Linked DNA regions of Homo sapiens: regions 2 and 3 are each linked to region 1. Evidence: fine-mapped expression QTL. A gene starts in region 1. Each other region holds a variant in brackets. All regions are shown on one strand. Distances are from middle to middle.

Region 1 (6,359 bases):
GCTCCTCATCTATAAAGCAGGTATAATAACGCTGGCTTTGCAGGGTTGCCGCAAGGATTAATGAGACAACCTTTGAAGTATCTAAAGTAGGTCTTTTCACACAGAACTTACTCTTGTTATTCTTGCTTCAATTCCCTTCAAAGCTGGTGGAATAATTTGGAATTGGCCCTTTTAGATTTTGGACATGGTGTATTTTATGAAGACAGATGTATTCAAAATATACTGTGATGAGGAGAAATAGAAAGTTATTCAAGTAATCTAGGAACTGGCACAGAAGGCCCTTGAACATATTTCTTCTAATGTTGTTTCCCTATAACGCTGATGAGAAAAAAAATTGATCCCCAGCAGGGGCCACTGTCTGTTTGGAGTTTGCACGTCCTCCCCATGTGCTGTGGGTTTCCTCCAGGTACCCCGGGTTCCTCCCACATCCCAAAGCTGTGCACGTGAGGCTCACTGGGGCGTCCCCGTCTGAGTGAGTGTGAGTGTGCCCTGCCATGGGATGCCGTCCTCTCCAGGACTGTTGCCCGCCTTGGTCCTGAGCTGCCTGGATGGGCTCAGCCCCCTGCCACCCTGAACTGGAATAAGCAGGTTGGAAAATGAAAGGATACAAATTATTGTCAAATAAAAACTCGTAAAGCATACGGTATTCACACAGAGATGCAGGACAATACCCGATGCAGTAAGAAAGGCCCAGCGGGCTGAGAAGTGGCTCCTGTTTGTTTTGAAACTGCATGGTAGGGGGAGGTGCTTCAGAGCTTTGGCTTGGCCAACATTATCTTTAACACAGCCCCTCCACAACCCGGTCACTCATGGATTCACCAGAAATTGGGTAATGATATTTCTTAAATGTAGAGCTCATATGTACTTCAGTGTTTCATATTAGAAGTGCTTTGGTCTTTATTTAGAAGTTTGGCGATGTTTTTGTGACCAGGAATGTGCTGTGGGAACTTTCCTCTTATTTATATCAATTAACCTATGGTGAAACTGGTTTCCTTGTACACTGCATGGCTTAAAGCTCCAGTTTCTAAGAACCTATGGATGATGTTAAGTGAAGACTTACTGTGTTGAGGGCCTAACTCTAAAAATAGAAAGAAATTAATCCAAAATGTATTTCTAAGGACTAACACTTGTATTAAATTACTCCAACCGAAAGAACAAACTCACTAAGGCGTGAGTGGAGAGATAGAAAAGCACAGTGGAACCAAATCTCTGAGATATCCAGGGTTAGAAGTAAAAACGTCAGTCGCTGCTCAAGTCCTGGAGGCTTTGATGATGGTTCTTACTACAGCCCTTTTCTGTTCCCGTTCAATTCTGGCATCAAGAGATGTTTGAAATAAGTTCCACCCTGTATCTCATCAAGACAACTGAACTTGGAGAAATGGTGGAATTTAAAATACTGAAAGATCACTGCCAGAATTTTCTCAGTTCCTGCTTCCAAAATGCCTATAACCTGCAGAAGATACAGTTTGCATCACACTAAAAATGGTCCGGTCATAGCTGCAGTCTGCAATTTAATCTCAAGTTTCTACACAGTAGACCACTGTCATTAATATCAAGGTAAGAGCTTTTAAAACCTATACTCTCTTAAAGTCCTACGGTATCATTAAGTTTTAGAGTTTAAAATTCAGAATTTAAAGGTATTGAAAACCCTTCAAGTACCTACTCCAACTCCACTTTATAAATGAGAAAACCAAATACCAGGTGAGTCCTTCAATATATAATGAGCCTGCGGCACTGGTAGGGTTAGAAACGTAACCCTTGCCCAGTATTGAAAGCTAAGATTAACAGGAACCCGTTGCTTTGTAAATCCCAGTATTAAACGCTCAAGAGGCAGAGCTTGGTGGCAAAAACGATCACTGGGGTGCCAAAGCGAGTAACCTCAGCTAATTAAACACGCTCAATAAAAATACACGAGACCAAGCCTACGACGTAAAGATGCAATCCTACGTAGGGTCTTGGTGTTATCTCCTGCCTTCTGAACCCCGCTGACCGTTTTCTGAGGTTCCACTCATGCAGGAAGCGCGCGGTGACGAGGCTCCAATTCCTCTCAAAGCTGACACCACCCTGCACCTGGGGCCCCTGATGGCAGCCGGTCCTACCGGGTTCTAAAATTACCGACGTGGGATCACTGTTCTAAGGCTTTAGGCAGCCGTAAATTCGTACCCCTCAGATAGAAGGAGCTGTGGAAACTAACCAGGACCCCGAGTCCCCCAAGGAGGCTGCGCGCCGCTACGGGACCCGACCTCGCCTCACAGCTGCGGCCATCGCCGGCCCGGCTCGGAGGAGGCGAAAGCGAGGCCGCGGACGGCCCTCACCCCGAATCCATGGACCCCGCCCGCCTGGCGGGCCACCCTTCTTTCCGTCCCTCCCCCGAAGCCTCTCCGTGCCTCGACTCCTCCGCGAACACCGGAACCCAGGGACGTCTGCCCCTTTTCCCTCAGGCAACTCCCTGGCCGCCCACCGTTGCCGTAGCAACGCCCGCCTCCGCGCTCGCTCCCCGCGGGCTTGCTCACCAGCCCTGCCCCGCCCCGCCCCATACTGCGCATGCTCGCCAGCCCCGCCCGGCCCACATTGCGCATGCTTGCCAACCACGCCCTGTCCACACCACACTGCGCATGCTCGCCGGCCCCCGCCCCGCGCACGGCGTCAGCGTCTAGACGCAGGTGCGTTCCCGTCGAGGCTCGCGCAGCGGGCGTTTTTGGGGATCGCCTGGCGGGGGTGTTCGGGAGCCGCGGGCTGAAGCACGGGGGCGTGCAGGCGCCCAGGCCTCGTGTAGTGAGGGCCGAGCCCCGCGCCGGCTTCGCTGTAGTCCGCAGCCCCCGGCGGCTTTGTGGGCGCAGCCACGCTCCTCAGCCGCCCGCCCACCTGGGCCTGGGCCCCGGTTGTTTCCCTGCGGTGGCTGTGGTCGTTCCCGTTCCAGGGTCTCGAGCGCACCGCCCCTTCGCTGCGCTGTTAGTCGAGGGCAGTTTTCTGGGGGATCCCCCGATCCCCCCGCGCCGCTCAGGCGTCTTGGCTCGCGGAAGCGCAGGCGCCGACTGCCTGGCGTCGTCCGTGACTCCTGGCCCTTCTCTGTGGATCCCTTTGCTTCTCGTTGCGGGTTGTGTTTCCTGCTTCGTGGGCCTGGCCGTTTGCGTTTGGATGCAGGCCCGGGTGAGCCCTGCGTGGCCCGCTGGCCTTTTCCTGCTCCCTAGGTGACTGAGCCGCGTGTGTGACACATCGGAGTGAATTGAGGCAACGCGTTCCTTTCCAGGCTTGCAGCGGGCGGTGTCGTTCACGCTCCTGAGCAGAGCCTTCCGGTGCTTTACTCGACGCCACAAATAGTGCAGGGTTCCTCCCAGGGGCTGTCGCGAGCTAGAACTCTTCCCCGCCCCTGTGAGCTCGGGCTGTTCTTCCTCCTCCGCGTGGCTCACTCCAGCCTCGGATGTTTCCTCGCTGCACAGACCTGCTCGGGAAGACTCGAGAAGGCCACCCCAGGACTCCAGCTCTCCCCGGAAGGGCTTCCCCTCGGATTGCGTCTTGGCCCCTGGAACCCTCCCTCTGTATCCTCTGCTGTTCCTCTCTTGGCCTCCATTTGGGTTGTGGCCTGGATACTCTGGCTCGCTGCTTCCCTTCTCTTAAGGATCACAGCCCTGCACTGCCTGTCGTCCGGTGCCTGGAAACCATTGTATTTTTTGGTCTGATTTTGTAGTTGTTTGAGAACTTAAGTCTGGTCCCTCACACTCCATGCCCAGAAGCAGAAATGAGTAAAGTTTGTTTTATCTTTTCTTAATATGACAATTATTGTGTTGGTTCAACTTATGTTGTACTTTAATTAGAAGAAATTTGGCCGAAAATACAAGGAAAATATACAAATGCAAGTAATTTTTTTTAAACTTCCCTGAAAGCAGGGTCTAAAGAAATTACCAACCAACTTAGACTGGATCTAGAAGAAAAGGAAGGGTCTTTGCAGTCTTAGGACTCTTCCGTTCCGCGACGTAGGTGTTAGGATAACAGCCATAAATGGTTGTAAGACTTTGGGCTCAGATAAGTAGACTTAAGTTCAAATTTTGACTTATTTTACAAGTGTGTGATTTTTGGCAAGCTCATCTTCCTAAACCATGAGCTCCTTATTTGTAAAGGGGACATTAGCCACTCTCCAGCAACAGCCCTGGTACTTCTTCAGTCCTGGGATGGGACGTATGATTAGCCTAAGCGAACCAGAAAATCCAGGCCCGTGACCAGTGACTTGATCAGGGCTGGCGATATATCTAGGTAGGCCAACCAGGTGGACTCAGTATTTTTGTGGGTGCTACTGGAAAATTTATTTAATTCTAACTGAATGTAGAAACAGCAACAGACATGAAATGGCAGTTGTATTGCTGTCTTATCATGAGGTGAGGGCCTGAAGCTATGGTAGCCACCCTGTGAACCTTGGAAGGAGGGTTCTACAGGAACTGGCAGAGCTGAGACTGGGACGCAACCCATGTCCTGGTGACGTATTTGAGTCCTGAGGCTGGCCCTCCTGTTAGTCTTTTCTCTTACTGGCTTCAGCCAGATGGGGTCTGGTTTTCTGTTACTTGCAACAGGAAAAATTGGAATGATATCTATGCATGCTATTACCGCCTTATGGCTGTGGTGAGATTAAAACATGATACTGTGGGTGAACTGCTTAGTACAGTGCCTGCTATTCTTTATGTTGGTTTTAAGGTATTTTTCTTGAACTTTAAAGTTCTAAGAAAAATTACCGTTTTAAAATTCCTACCCTCTGTTCACATGTTTAAATTTTCATGATAGTTTTTCTGTCTGCATGTTTTCTATTCAAAATAAATTGGTCATTCTTCAGTTAGCCACGAAGAATATTGTGAATTTTTTATTTTTAAATTTATTTTTTATTGATACATATTAGATGAACATGTTTTTGGATAACGTGATAATTCGATAAATTCATAAAATCAAATCAGGGTAATTGGGATATCCATCCCCTTAAATATTTATCTTCTATTTACACTAGGAACATTCAAATTATTCTAGCTATTTTGAAATGTGCAATCGATTTGTGTTAAGTATAGGCTTGACTGAAAATTTAACCTTATTGCTTTCTAATTCTTGACAAAAACAAAGCTAACATAGTTGATATTTGAAGAATACATTCATTCTTCAAGATAGTGTGTTCTGTTGAAATGAGTTAGATGATCAGAATGCAACATTCTTGGATAGGGATAATTAAAAATATAGTCAACCTATCTTGTCCCCAAAACCATGTTATCAATGATTTGTATTTTAACATTATGCCTTTTGTTTTAAAAAAGTTTTTTTGTTTTTTTGAGATGGGCCTGAGAAACTGCATGTATACAAAGCATGTTTACATCTTCAGAAAACTGCTATTGAGTACATTCTCCATGGTGCTGTTCAGTGCCATTTGTGTAAGCACCCACATGATTGTTTTAGAATTTCAAAACCACTAATTGAATGTCCTAGGAATAGTGGAGACGGAAGAGAAAATTAGAGGTGCATGATGTTAAGGATGTTGAGGTGCTTAGTCACAAGGAGAAGGGCACCAGTGTACTTGGCTGATTAAGATGCACTTCTGTACTCCACTGTGCTTAAGAAGAAAGCTGCGGGTGGTACTCTAAGAGATCTGTTGTATAAACATTATCACAAAAAGAGTGATGATACCTGTGCTTATCCAAGGAAGAGCAGCCCAAGATGGATGGCAATAGCGGACTATTTAAGTGGAAGACATTGATATGAAGGGAAAATCTTATATTTTGCTTGTGTAGAGCGCAATTCACAGAAAGTGTTCAAATACTAGAATAGGCAGTTGGAGTCCAGCTTGTGGAAGATGGGGTTTTCTTCATGATGACACTAGAGATCATGATATTGGATACTAGTGCTGGCCCTGTATTTTTATTTATTTATTTATTTATTTATTTATTTATTTATTTATTTATTTATTTTGAGACAGAGTCTCTGTTGCCCAGGCTGGAATGCAGTGGCGCCATCTCGGCTCACTGCAACTTCTGCCTCCCAGGATCAAGTAATTCTCCTGTCTTAGCCTCCCGAATAGCTGGGATTACAGGTGCCCGTCACCACGCTTAGCTAATTTTTGTATTTTTTAGTAGAGTCGGGGTTTCGCTATGTTGGCCAGGCTGGTCTTGAACTTCTGACCTCAGGTGATCCGCCTGCCTCGGCCTCCCAAAGTGCTGGGATTACAGGCGTGAACCACCGTGCCTGGCCTATGGATTCTTAATGTATCATACCCATAATATTTGAATTTGCCCACCTGCCTAGTCTCTAAACACTGCACTAATGAAAGCCTAGGCAGGGTCAGAATGGTTCTTAGTTCAATATCCTTCTCACATTTTAGTATCTTAATGCTC
Region 2 (6,359 bases), 180 kb before region 1:
TGTGACACCACGCCAAGCTAATTTTTGGTGTTTTTTTTGTAGAGACAGGGTTTTGCCATGTTTCCCAGGCTGGTTTTGAACTCTTGGGTTCAAGTGATCTCCCACCTTGGCCTCCCAAAGTGCCGGGACTAGACATGTTGCCAAGATGTCACTTTTTATGTGTGACACGTGATTACTTGAGTTGCTGTAGAAGGCTGTGGTGCATTAGACTAATAATGTATATTCTTTTTTCATTGCTATTATGTTCATGGTGCTGTAATCCAGTGGAAGAAAAAGCAAGTTTAAATTTAAGAGATTACTAGTTTTATATGTAAGATAAATATACTTATTTGTCTTATTTCCTGTCTCTTGTTGTTTGAGAAAGTATAGAAGATAATTTTTGTAGGTGATGCTACCTTAGCAATCCCGTAAGCTTCTGCTGAGACTGTGGCCCTGTGTATTAAGAACAACAGCAACACCAACCGCTCCCTTATTTTTTTCTGCTCATAAAGTAGTGTGTGCTCACTATACAGAATATAGAAAATACTAAAATGTAGAAACAAGGAAAACTCCACATTTTTTCAGCGCGCGCGCGTGTGTATATATATATTGTTGTTGTTGTTGTTGTTGTTGTTGTTGTTGTTTTTTGAGATGGAGTCTCTCTCTGTCACCCAGGCTGGGGTGCAGTGGTGCGATCTTAGCTCACTGCAAGCTCCGCCTCCCAGGTTCATGCCATTCTCCTGCCTCAGCCTCCTAAGTAGCTGGGGCTACAGGTGCCTGCCACTATACCCAGTTAATTTTTTTGTATTTTTAGTAGAGACTGGTTTCACCGTGTTAGCCAGGATGGTCTCGATCTCCTGACCTTGTGATCCGCCCGCCTCAGCCTCCCAAAGTGCTGGGATTACAGGCGTGAGCCACCGTGCCCGGCTGCATGTGTGTATTATATATAGCATATGCAGTTTATACCTTTAAAACCTTTAATATTATATTGTGTTTTCCATACCTTTTATGTTCTTCAAAACCATTTTTAGTGGTGTAACCTGAGCCATGTATTTAGCAATATATTAAGCTAGTGGTTTTCAAAGGCTATTTCGTCATTTTAAAGGGTGGAACCATTTATCCCTCCAGTGACTTGCTACCTGCATTTTTTTCAGATTTGCAATAGAAAACAGCTGAGTTGTTCCTCAGGCACCAAACCCACCCTGTCCTCTTTGTGAAACATTTCACTTCACCAGTAAACTGTTGTTGAGCATCTAGAGGATTTTTAAATTTTCATTATTATTTGGGTTTCTGACAATTTCTTTACATGGAAATTAGAATGAAAATTATTAGGCTAATGAGTATTAATTGCTAAACTGTTTTCTAGAATTACTTGTTTATATTCTCTTGATAGACCATGAAGGTGCCTCTTGTTTTTAGCCATAAACTTAATAACAGTGAATATTAGTATCTTTAAAATCTTTTCCATTTTCATGGGTAGAAGGTAGTTTCTCATTATTGTAATGTTAATTTAAAAAATTTTTAGTCAGATAGGACATTTTAATTTTAATTTATAAAATATAGAAAAATATCTAATACATATATCATTTTATTTTTATTTATTTATTTTATTATTATAATTTTTTTGAGATGAAGTGTTGCTCTGTTGCCCAGGCTGGAGTGCAGTGGCGCAGTCTTGGCTCACTGCAACCTCTACCTCCCGGGTTCAAGCGATTCTCCTGCCTCAGCTTCCTGAGGAGCGGGGACTACAGGTGTGTGCCACCACGCCCAGATCATTTTTATATTTTTAGTAGAGACAGGGGGTTTCACCATGTTGGCCAGGCTGGCCTCAAACTCCTGACCTCAAGTGATCCACCCTCTTCGGCCTCTGAAATGCTGGGATTACAGGCATGAGCCACCGTGCCCAGCCCATGTATATTTTATTTGATTAATGTCCTTTGCCCTTTTTTGTGGTTGTTGCTTTTTTCATATTGAATTTATGATCTCTTTGTTTGAACACATCAGCTTTTCATTTCAATTTTTTACATGTTTTTCTGATTGTTATTTTGCTTTTTAATATTAATTGCTTTTTTCCAGAATTTGAATATTTTTTATAATATTTGGTTTTTCTTTTTCTCTTGGTGTCTCTAATTGTTTTTGTGTTTAGAAGATTGTTTCCCACCCTGAGATATGACAGCTAGTTGTCCCAATACCATTAATTGAATATTCTTTTCTGTACTGATTTTTTATGCTTCATTTTCAGTAAGCTAAATATTATATTAGCGTTTGTTTCTGGGCTCAGGTATGCAGGTTTTGGAGTCAGATAGACCTGGGCTTGAATTTCAAATCTGTCTGAAACCCTTAGCAACCTTGAGCATATTGTTTACGCTTTCAGAGTCTCAGTCTTTTATCTATAAAATGACCATATCAAGGTCTAGTTTATAGAATTATTATATGTAGTAAGTGGAATATATGTATAGTATAAAGTACCTAGTCTATTGCCTGGTGGCCAAGAGTAAGCAGGAAATAAATGCTGAGTTTTACTTTCTGTTTTTTCCCTCTGGTTTGTCTGTCTATTCCTATGCCAGTGCCATATTGTTTTAAAGACTGTAGTTTTGTAATACTTTGCTCCTACTAGGTTTTAAAAAGTTCATACATTTTATGAAGGTTTTCGTAAGCAAAGGCATGTATTTTGTGCAATATGGGACATTACAATGCTATGGAAATTTGTCTTTTAATTGTTTTGTCTGTGTTAGGGAAATGTATGTGTATAAACATGTTCGTGTGTGTTTAAATAAATAAATATTTGGTGGGGAGATTTGGAAAACAAAAGTCACAGTTAGCAGATTGGGTCCTTAGCAGTGGCTGTAGCCAGGCCAGCCTTGGTGAGTAGAAGGTGCTGGGTCCATGTATGATCTCCGTCCCTACCATCATGGTGACTTTGTTCCTGAGCCCATTGGGCAATGACAGGGGTGGCTGGGGAAGGAGGCTGACTAGTATCCACAGAGCCAGTCAGCCTATCCACTTAATTATTAAAATCTTCCTCTGCTGAGGTCACCCTTTGGTGAGCATTCACATGGGACACAAATACTTTCACATTTTTTTCCCATTCAAAGAGGTCTGTTCATGTACCTCATCCCAATTTTCTTATTTCCAGTTTTCCAATTGTGTTTCTTCAAGACTCTGAGCATCTGGCCAAACCATTGGCCATGGTCCATTAATATGTAATAATCACACATTTGGCTATTTCTCTTTCCAAGCAAAGCAAACCACCAGATGTACAGCCCATAGATCTGCCCAT[C/T]GGAGAGTTTCCCTTCACCGCTGTCCTTTTAGGGATGTTCCAGAAAGGGGCAGTAGTGCTGCAGTTGTCCACTAACGTGGGGGCCTGCATATCATGCAGAACCATCTGTAAACCAGGCCCAGGTCTTCCTCCGTCAGCTGATTTTAGGGAACTCTCCAGGAGACTGTAGGTGCAGGCTGGGAGAGAGAAGGCAGCGTAGCGGGAGTGGGGACCGTCGGCATTGGCGGCACTTCTTTATGTAACTTGTGCCTTTAGGGCCTACTTAGGCCCAGACATGTACCACTTCCATTTGATGATGGAATGCTGCTGTGCACACCCAACTTTCTGGCTTGGTGGGTCGGAAAACATTCAGTTCATGATGGGCAACTCAGGTCCCATGGTAACTTGGTGGTCCATGTTTCAGCATTCAATCCCTACTAAAGCCCCATAGTGGGTCAAGAGCTGTTTCTCAAAGGCAGTTGTTACCCACAAGGATGGCAGGGCGTTGCCCCAACATCCTAAGGGCCTGTGCTGCAGTTCACCTTGAGAGGAACCTGCCAAAGGCTCCACACAGCATGCGTCTCTGCCTCTGCCCTTTCAGACACCCTTGGATCTGCTGGGTCATGTGGCCCAGGAGGCAGAGCAGCCTGCACAGAGCCTGGAGCTGCCGCAGAGCCTTCCCTCCTTCTGGGCTGTACTCAAAACCAGCAGCTTTTCAGGCCGCTCAGTAAACCAGCTGGAGCAACACACGCAAATGAGAAATGTGTTGTCTTCGAAGTCCAGAGAGGCCTGCTAGATGTTATGCCTCTTTTTTGATGCAGGAGGCGCCAGATTCAACAATTTATCCTTCACCTTAGAAAGGATATCTCCATATACCCTACAACACTGGACCCCTAGAAATTTCACTGAGATAGAAGGCCCCTAAATTTTTGTCAGATTTATTTCCCACTTTTTGACACACAAATGTCTTACCAATAAGTTTAGAGTGGTTGTTAACTTCTCACTCACTAGTTACAATCAGCAAAATATCGTCAACATAATGGGCCAGTGTGATATTAATATCCTATGGAAGGGAAAGGTGATCAAGATTTCTGTGAACTAAATTATAATACAGGGCTACAGAATTTATATACCCTTGACGTAGGGCAGTGAAGGCGTATTGCTGGCCTTGTCAGCTGAAAGCAAACTGCTTCTAGTGGTCTTTACTAACAGGGACAGAGAGAAAAGCATTTGCCAGATCAGTAGCTGCATACCAGATAGGTGGCATGTTAATTTGTTCAGGCAATGAAGCCACATCTGGTACAGCAGCTGTAATTGGACTCACCACCTAGTTAAGCTTAACGATAATCTTCTGTTATTCTGGAAGCTCTGTCTGTCTTCTGCACAGACCAGATAAGAATCGAATGGGGGTGTAGTGGGAATCCCCACCCCTGCATCTTTCAAGTCCTCGACGGTGGCAGTAATCTCTGAAATCCCTCTAAGAATGCAGTATTGGTTTTGGTTTACTGTTTTCCCAGGTAGATGCAGTTCTAGTAGCTTCCACTTGGTCTTTCCCACCATAATAGCCCTCACTCCACAGGTCAGGAAATCAGTATGGGGATTCTGCTAGCCATTCCATTCCATTAATTGCCTTCTGGAAGAGAGGAGACAACCACAGGATGGGTTCAGGGACCCGCTCTGAGTTGGGCCTCTGCTAAAATTCCACTGATTACCTGACCTCCATAAGCCCCTACTCTGACTGGAGAGCCACAGGGAAGGTCTCCTAGGATCAGTGTCAGTTCAGAGCCAGTGTCCAGAAGTTCACGAACGGTCTGGTTATTTCCTTTTCCCCAGAGCACAGTTATATCACTAATATTCATTTGTCAATCTGTCATTTACAGTTTTGTGACATTTATGGGATTCTGTGAGTACTCAGAAAATGTTCAGATTCCTTTAATCTCCCATGGAGCATCTGTTCTAGTACTTTCATGTTGAAAGTGTTCAATAAATATTGATTGATTGAAGGAATAAAAGTCATTATAATTATATCATTAGGAATATTTTGGCAAAAGTGAATTTGAAAGGAAATTTAATGGCTTATTTTATAAAATTGTCAGTATGGATGTTTTTGATTGTGCCTTTAATGTGTAAATCACATATGGATTAGAGGCTAAATGTGTTGATAATGCTTTTTTTTGTATGTGCAAATATATTTAGTTTGGCTTAAATATAGTGTTTGGATTTTGGATACAGGTTTGAGATGTTATGTGTTAACCATATTACCTTGGAATGCTACTTTACTTTTCTGGGCAAGAATTTTGTAACACAAATAAAATAATAACCTTAGTAAACTGTGTCATGTAAGCAAGATGTATCTCTGTCTGCAGTGAGAAAATAGCTTGAAAAATGTGATACAGAAAAATGACATTGGAGCATTGGAGTTAGGAGACCTGATGATGATCCTCTGGCCTCTGGGTTTTGGCTGGTGGTTGTCATCACTTGTCAGCTTGATGCTGTGAGATGTGTTCTGTCATTCACACAGTGTGGGTCCATGACATGCCAGCAACTGTAGTTTGTTGTAGGATAGGGCAGAGATGACAAATTAAAATGGTAGTGTAAGTTCTTTTTGTTGTTAAAATAGGAAAAAGGGTTAAAAAATGGACCGAAAAAATAAAGTATCCACTTCTATACATTTTCTATATCTTGTGTACTGTTAAAAAATTAATAGGAAAATATGAAACTCTTCATTTCCATAAGTTGAAAAACAATGATACAGCTGCTTTGTGGGTTTTCCTTTTGGGGGTGATAAAAATGTTTCGGAGTTAGGTAAAGGTGGTGGTTGCACACCATTGCAAATGAACAGTTCAGTGCAAATGCCACTGAATTGTTCACTTTAAAATCGCTAATTTTAAGTAATGTGAGTTTAATATCAAAATAAGAGCTAAATAACAATAAAAATTTGGAAGATAGGAAAATGATGGAGTTAGATTGTACCCTTAAATAAAACCAGGAAATAATTCTTCAGTTTTTGAGTGATTTTTCCCCAGTGGGGCCCAATTTTGGCTAAGCTGTCCACTCACTTATGACCAGAGATAGAGACAAAACAAACATTTGTGACATGAATGCCCAGTTTGAGATTGTC
Region 3 (6,359 bases), 40 kb before region 1:
AGGCTTTGGTTACATTTGCATATGCCATTTGAAGCCTCCAGCTTTTACCAGTTTAACATCCAAAGTTCACAGCATCAGCATTCATGGTGTAAGAACAGTTTTGCAGTATAACACGATCTGATAATCATTCAGTTATTAAATTGTAAATAATTATTGGGATGGTTTCTTGGCTTTAAGTCCACTGAATAAAAACTATGAAATTGCACTCTGTGTCAACCATCCACTAGGATAGAATACCGAAATCTGTGCATGCAAAAATAGGAGATGGGCCCATTTGCACACAATTCGTAGTTATGCAGTCTGCTATATAAATATGTTCACATGCACTGTGTGTATGAAAATAGATGGTCTGTGTTCAGACAAAAGTAAAACATTTTTTTCAAATTGTTACATTTAAAGGTTTTCTGGGAGAAATTTATGAAACGCAGGCTGTGTCTATTTGACATCAGAAATTTCCACTTTAAACCAAAATAATAAGAAACTTTAATCTGTATATTTACAACCTTTGTTGAGTACACTTCCCCCTTATTTATACGTCTGCATTTCCTTCCGAGCTTCACATCTTTCTAAAATGCAGCTTGGTTTTAAAATAAAAGAACATTCATTTTGTGATTCTAAACAAGCTTCAGTAAATACCACCAGTATAGTACTGGTGAATTTCTCAGCATAAAATCGACATACCTAAAAAGTTAATAAAATTCAGCTCTTTTCCAATTTCATTGTTATGCCTATTGAAGTATTAATTGCCAGGTTTGATTTTTAGTGAAGCTTGGAGTCCATACTTTGAGCAGACCAAGTGAAGGGAAGAACAGAAAGAAACTCAGGAGTAGAGTAATATCACTTCTCACTTACACCACTTTCAGGCACATCCAAAGAGTTCCTAGATACTTGGAAAATGTCTGAAAATTTTTAAGTAAAATACTAAACTTTTCAGTGTTTAGCTCAACTTTTTGTTCATTTGGAAGTTTCTCTCCATCCGAGGACTTAAGCCAGTTTTGGATTTGTAAGCCCTGAGTACAATACACTTCCTGGAGGCATCCTCACTGCTGTTGAAGCAAAGGATATGCATGGGGTGGAAGGACGGCTTCGAACCTGGGACTCATATGCCTTGAGAACAAATAGATTGTTACAGCCTTGGGCTGCTGCGTAATCACGGTTCCTCGAGGCTCTTCCTGAGCACATGCCCAAGCATCTGCCTCTGGAGAGACTGACTCCAAATGCAGGTGCTTCCATTGGAGCTAGGTCGGAGGCTGCTTTATATGACGAACTCCAGAAATGGATGCCAGAATACGGAGGCCAAACGTTCTGAGTCCTGGTAAGGACAGTCGCTCTGGGGGTCCTCATTTTACTGCAGTTCCTGCACGCCAGTGAAAGAGAGGAGATAGACCCTGGAAGGCAGAGCTGCAGATGCTCATCATCAGGTCAATTCTGGAGCTACAGTTTTGTTTCTGACTGGATAGGGATGCACCAGTGACTGTCACATCAAGCAGTCCTTTTATTCTCTCTCCTTTAGTATCGATTTTAAAGGGCATTAGGCACTATGGTTCCAGAGTTTCTTGGGGAAAACTTGCAGATTCTTATTAATTGGTTCTGCAATACTTAAATAAATTATTTTACAATTATAAGTTTTCAGATTATAACATTTGTATTAATTTTTACTGATTTTCCAAGATACTTCTTAGATTTACTATTTACGTAGCTTTATGTACATTCTCTGTAAAAATAGACCTCTAAATATGAGGCTTTACATGAAATTTGTACACACATACACACTAATGTTAGCTCCTTAAATTGCTGCACTAAGGTGCTGGTTAGTAGAGATGGACGGAGCCTCTCGCGTTTTGCTCTCAGATGTGTTAAAGGCGCACGTGTACCTGCTCTCAGCGGCAGTGCGGCCTCCCCATCTGCTGGGTGCCCATGGCCCTCCCTGCAGCCTCAGTGATGACCTCGTCTGCCAGGGACACAGGTTTTCATCATTTACAGGCTCTTATGTGCTAGTTTTGTTGGTAGCACGTTATTTAATGCATAAAGGCAGAATTCTTACAAGTTTTTTTTTTTAATGTGAACATAGATGCAGCACCGACTTTTTAAACTTGAAAAAACTGGTATAATGTTAACTTTTAAAAATAACATTTGGACACACTAGTAATTGATTTTTGTTTACAGATTGTTTTGTTTACAAATTGTTAGTCTTTGTTTCTATGAGATACTTTTAGTGTGACTTTTTAAATGTCTTAGAAATTAAAAGTTGTACAAAAAGTGATTTCATATTTGGTTTATAAGCATTTATATGTGGGGTTTATTTGTTCTTTTGTTTTTTCCATCTTAAATATTATCATGGCTAAAACTTAAGGGTATTTATAGTTTAATTCCATTTCAGTTTTATAGAGGGCAGTAATTATTCTGATGAATGTTGAATTAAGAAATGGATATTTTCTTTCTCTGTTGTGCAGTTATTGGTAGATCAATTTCTTATAACCCACAATGTAGCATCAATAATTGATAGCATGTATTTTATTTAATTACTTGAATTATTTAGACTTGATTTCTCTAATTTTTTCCATAAAAGGACTGAACAGCACCTACTTGTGGTCTGGACAGCTTAACCCAGAGTTCCTGGAAGAATAAATGCTGTTAGCATCTGGTTAATTTACTGGCAGACAGAAGCCTACTTACAGTGGCTTTCAACTTTTTGACCACAGTAAGAAATAACCCATTACACACACACACACACACACACTCTCTCTCTCTCTCTCTCTCTCTCTCTGTCTCTCAGATACGTATAAGCAAAAATTTAACAAGACAGTACTTGTTTTTCCTAAGTGTGCATGCTGGCATCTTCTGTTTTATTATTTTTAAAAATACTAGACACAGACACTAAGTTACTTTGTGGCCTCCTAATAGATGGCAGACTTCAGTTTGAAAAGCATCCCTTTGGAATGTGGTTTAAAAGAAGAAATAATACAAAGACCTTTTTGGAGTTTTTTTTTTTTTTGGTTTTTGAATATTGTTTAGGTAAAAATTATTGCTGCAAACACAACTGAAGCAAAAGTACTGTGTACGCAAATTACTTGTTGCACTGTAGAAAATGTAATATCAGGAGAAGTTCCTAAAACTCACAAATATATACAAAATTTCAAAACTTGGTGATTGATCCATATGTCTTGAAGGAATATTAGGCAATAAACTTACCTTTTCAAGAGAAGTTATTTAACTTCCAATTCTGTGTTCTTTAATTAGGAAAAAATTTTTTCAAGGTTAACTATAATCAAATAGGAACTTCACACAAAACCTCATTATTCTTGGATATGGATTTGGTGTTCTGCTGTTACTTCTAAAGGTGGTACAGAAGTCAAGTTTATGAGCCTGGATTATGAACAGCAGGGCGGCCCTGATGTGAGTGGTTGTGGAGGACTAGAGTGATGTAGAAGAATCTGTTGTGTCTGAGTGTGAGGAGGTGGAGAGTCACGTGTGGGCTATGGGTCTGAGAACTGAAGTTTTAACAGTTACTAAAACTGTTTTGTGGCTGTTGTAATGTCTTCTCCTTTCCTTTCCTTTGAAAAGCTGTTACTGAATGAACGATGCCGCTTACAAACACTGACACTTCAGAACCAAGCATATTTGATACTGCTGTAGCTATTTATATTGATTCTGCAACTTCTCTTTAACAGCATCTTGAAGTCATCCACAGTTGTTCTATATGGACTCCACAGTAGAGTCAGAGAACTAAGTGACAAGTGGAGCATCGTCCTCCTCCTGCTCACTTCCTCCTCGCCACCTCTCTGGCCTGGCTATCCTTCAGTCTGAAGAGTGATTCACTTTTTCTTTTCTTTTTAGTCTTTACTGTGGAATCTCATCAAAGACTTGGAAG[C/T]AGGGGTGGTGAGAGGGGCCTGGGGCGTGGTGTGGAGGGTCGAGTTCTTTGTCGTCCCACAGTCACCCCCAGGACCACCTTGCGAAGCCGAAAATACACATCTGCATTTTACCGACAAGGAACGCCACTGAGAAAGCTGCAGACATTTGCCTGGGGTCACGCTTACAGTGGGCAGATGAACTGGATGTAAATACAGGCCAGTACAACCGCAGTCTCATTTTTTCTTTGTTTTAGGTTTTCAGTTTCTTGTTCATTCATGTACCTTACAGTTCTATTATCTGGTTGATAAAGATTCATGACAGGTATCCTCATTCTAGATTATAACCTTTATTCTTATCAAATGCCTCCAGTCCCACAATTCGCTAAGAATTCTCTTTCTGGACTTGATAGTGATTTAATGATTCCCCCCGCCCATGGAATGGTAGGCTCCTAATTAAGTGGATTTAAAGGCAAAAAGGGATGTGTGAGAAGGCACAAGAAGTGGCTTCATCTTGCAAGGTGACTGTCAGACAAGTGGGTTCCAACCTGTTAAAATAAGGGAGGAATGGCCACATCCCGTAGGGACTGCTGTAGCTGACCAGGAAGACACAATGAGGGCAGCAGACAGGGCTCTCCCTGTCCGCTGAGTCCTCCCATGAACTCATGTTTCCAAAGGCCCCACTCTTTCTTGGTCAGTGTCCCAGTTTTTATAGAAGAGACCTGATGAGGCTGTGGAGTAATTGTATAAAAGCTTGCACTGTTTTCCTGACTTGACCTGACAATGTGGCGTTATCTTCAAATTGTCCAGAGAAGTAGCTACTTCATTCAGGTCCTTTTTAGCGTTCTGTGGTTGCAACTTGGTCTCGCAAGCTTTCGATGGGCGCGCCATTCCATGGCCACTTTTCAGTAAGAAAATTGCCTGATTTTCTGTTAACTGTCACAGGCTGCCCTGGACCATTCCTCAGAACTCATGGGATTTTCGCGACCCTCATCCTCAGTGAAGTTAGATGACCATTCCTGCCTTTCATCCCACCGATTTTCCTAAGTATCTGTTGCCTGCAACTAACACTAGTTCCTGTGTCAGTAAAGTACTGCACTTGGTTGCAAAGAATAGAGATGGACTCTGCCAACATAGGCACGGAAGGTTTACGGGGTGGATGGCATGGCTCACAGATGTGATGAGAAAGCCCCGGAAGAAGTGTTGGGCACAGCCTTAGGCACAACCTTTCCTGGGCTCTTCCCATCACTGAATGATCCATGTATCTCCGGGACTCTCCTTCTAGATCCAAAGTTTAGGGCGGCGGAATCGGACTGCTCTGGCCTTTGACACGTGCCTGTGCTTTGCCTGTCAACGCTATGGGGAGAGAGATGTCAGCTTACAGAAAATTGAGGTTCTGTGATTCAGTTTCCCTCTGCTCTCTTAGAATAAAAGTGCTTACTCATTGTTTAAAGCATTCTCCAAATTAGTCTGCAAATTTTTTGATAGTATACATCCTTAAAAAATGAGCACATCCCAATATATGCATATTTATTCATAAATGATACATACATATGTAGCTATATAATGTGTACATCACAAAACATAGGAGAGTATTTTTTCTAAGGGATGAGATAAGAATAAATAGAAATTTTGGCATTTCTTCTCACATTAGATGCTGGGTTATTCTGAGCCCATGCCATGTGCACACCCACTTGGCCTCTTCCTCTTAGGCCTACACCCTGCCCTTTCCTTGCCCCTTGTAGTTACTGTGGCTGGAGTGATGAGCGCCACTCCCAAGCATGGCCTGGAACAATGTCCTCCTGCCCCTCCACCAGCAGTGACAGGATTCACTGGGGACTCGGGGGCAAAGGAGACTGTGTCACAAGACAAAAGGAGCCAGGGTCACACATGGTGTACCCTCGCCCTGCCTCACCCATGGCTGACATGGGTTGGACACCTCAGAAATCATGTGTCTTCAGCGAGCCACTGAGAGTTGGGGCTTTATCTGTTACTCGGCTAGGGGTAACCTAACCGATGAGACTGTAACTGGTTACTGTAAATAACCAAGCTCCCAGTAATAGTAAACCAGTGACAAAAACAATTCTTATCCAAAAAGGTTCACTTTTTTTTAAAATGTGTGAACTAAAACAGTCTTTATTGCTCTAAGACATTAAAATTTGCACTTTTTTGATGTTGAATACCACTGAATATTTTATTTTTATATTTTATTACACAGAAATACAGCAATTATTACAAAACGAGTATTAGGAATGGCAAAGGCTTTAGGACAGACTATTAGCGGAAAACATTTGGAACTTAAGGAGTGTTTTACATTTGGAACTTACTTTAAGGAGTGTCGTTCAGACACTAGCTATATCTTAACCTCAATTTTTAGAAGTAAGCAAGCTCTCATTTTTTGCTATTCATATTTGAAGTGATTAAACTCATAAATTTGAAATTTACTTTTTAGAGACCAAAGATTAAAATTAGGTGGGATGTCAGCTTTTAAAATATACTAAGATTTCCTAC

Direction of the effects. Alleles are on the strand shown, and positions count from the first base shown. SD is a standard deviation of normalised expression in the study named. Not every link is listed here.
For the expression in prefrontal cortex of the gene that starts at base 2,425 in region 1, allele C in region 2 goes with a lower level than allele T (large effect, 0.91 SD a copy in ROSMAP).

The links. PIP is the estimated chance that this variant, and not a neighbour inherited with it, causes the effect.
Region 2: its variant is the best candidate, but not a certain one, in a credible set for the expression of RNF32 in prefrontal cortex (ROSMAP, PIP 0.55).
Region 3: its variant is the best candidate, but not a certain one, in a credible set for the expression of RNF32 in lung (TOPMed, PIP 0.67).

The regions. Positions count from the first base shown.
Region 1 is chr7:156,636,840-156,643,198 of GRCh38, reverse strand. RNF32 (ring finger protein 32) reads right to left here and starts at 2,425. Exons shown (of 9, transcript NM_030936.4): 1 at 2,388-2,425. It overlaps RNF32-DT (RNF32 divergent transcript), which reads left to right and starts at 2,664. Exons shown (of 4, transcript NR_026865.2): 1 at 2,664-4,251. RefSeq lists a silencer at 2,525-2,834 and an enhancer at 2,403-2,994.
Region 2 is chr7:156,818,358-156,824,716 of GRCh38, reverse strand. The region is part of intron 4 of LMBR1 (limb development membrane protein 1); the gene reads left to right. Among named protein-coding and RNA genes, the nearest start is that of LMBR1, 72 kb to the left of the region's middle. RefSeq lists an enhancer at 3,529-4,029. The variant C/T (reference allele first, on the strand shown) is at 3,260.
Region 3 is chr7:156,676,785-156,683,143 of GRCh38, reverse strand. It overlaps LMBR1 (limb development membrane protein 1), which reads left to right. Exons shown (of 17, transcript NM_022458.4): 17 at 1-5,353. RNF32 (ring finger protein 32) reads right to left here. Exons shown (of 9, transcript NM_030936.4): 9 at 6,014-6,359. Among named protein-coding and RNA genes, the nearest start is that of RNF32-AS1, 20 kb to the right of the region's middle. The variant C/T (reference allele first, on the strand shown) is at 3,872.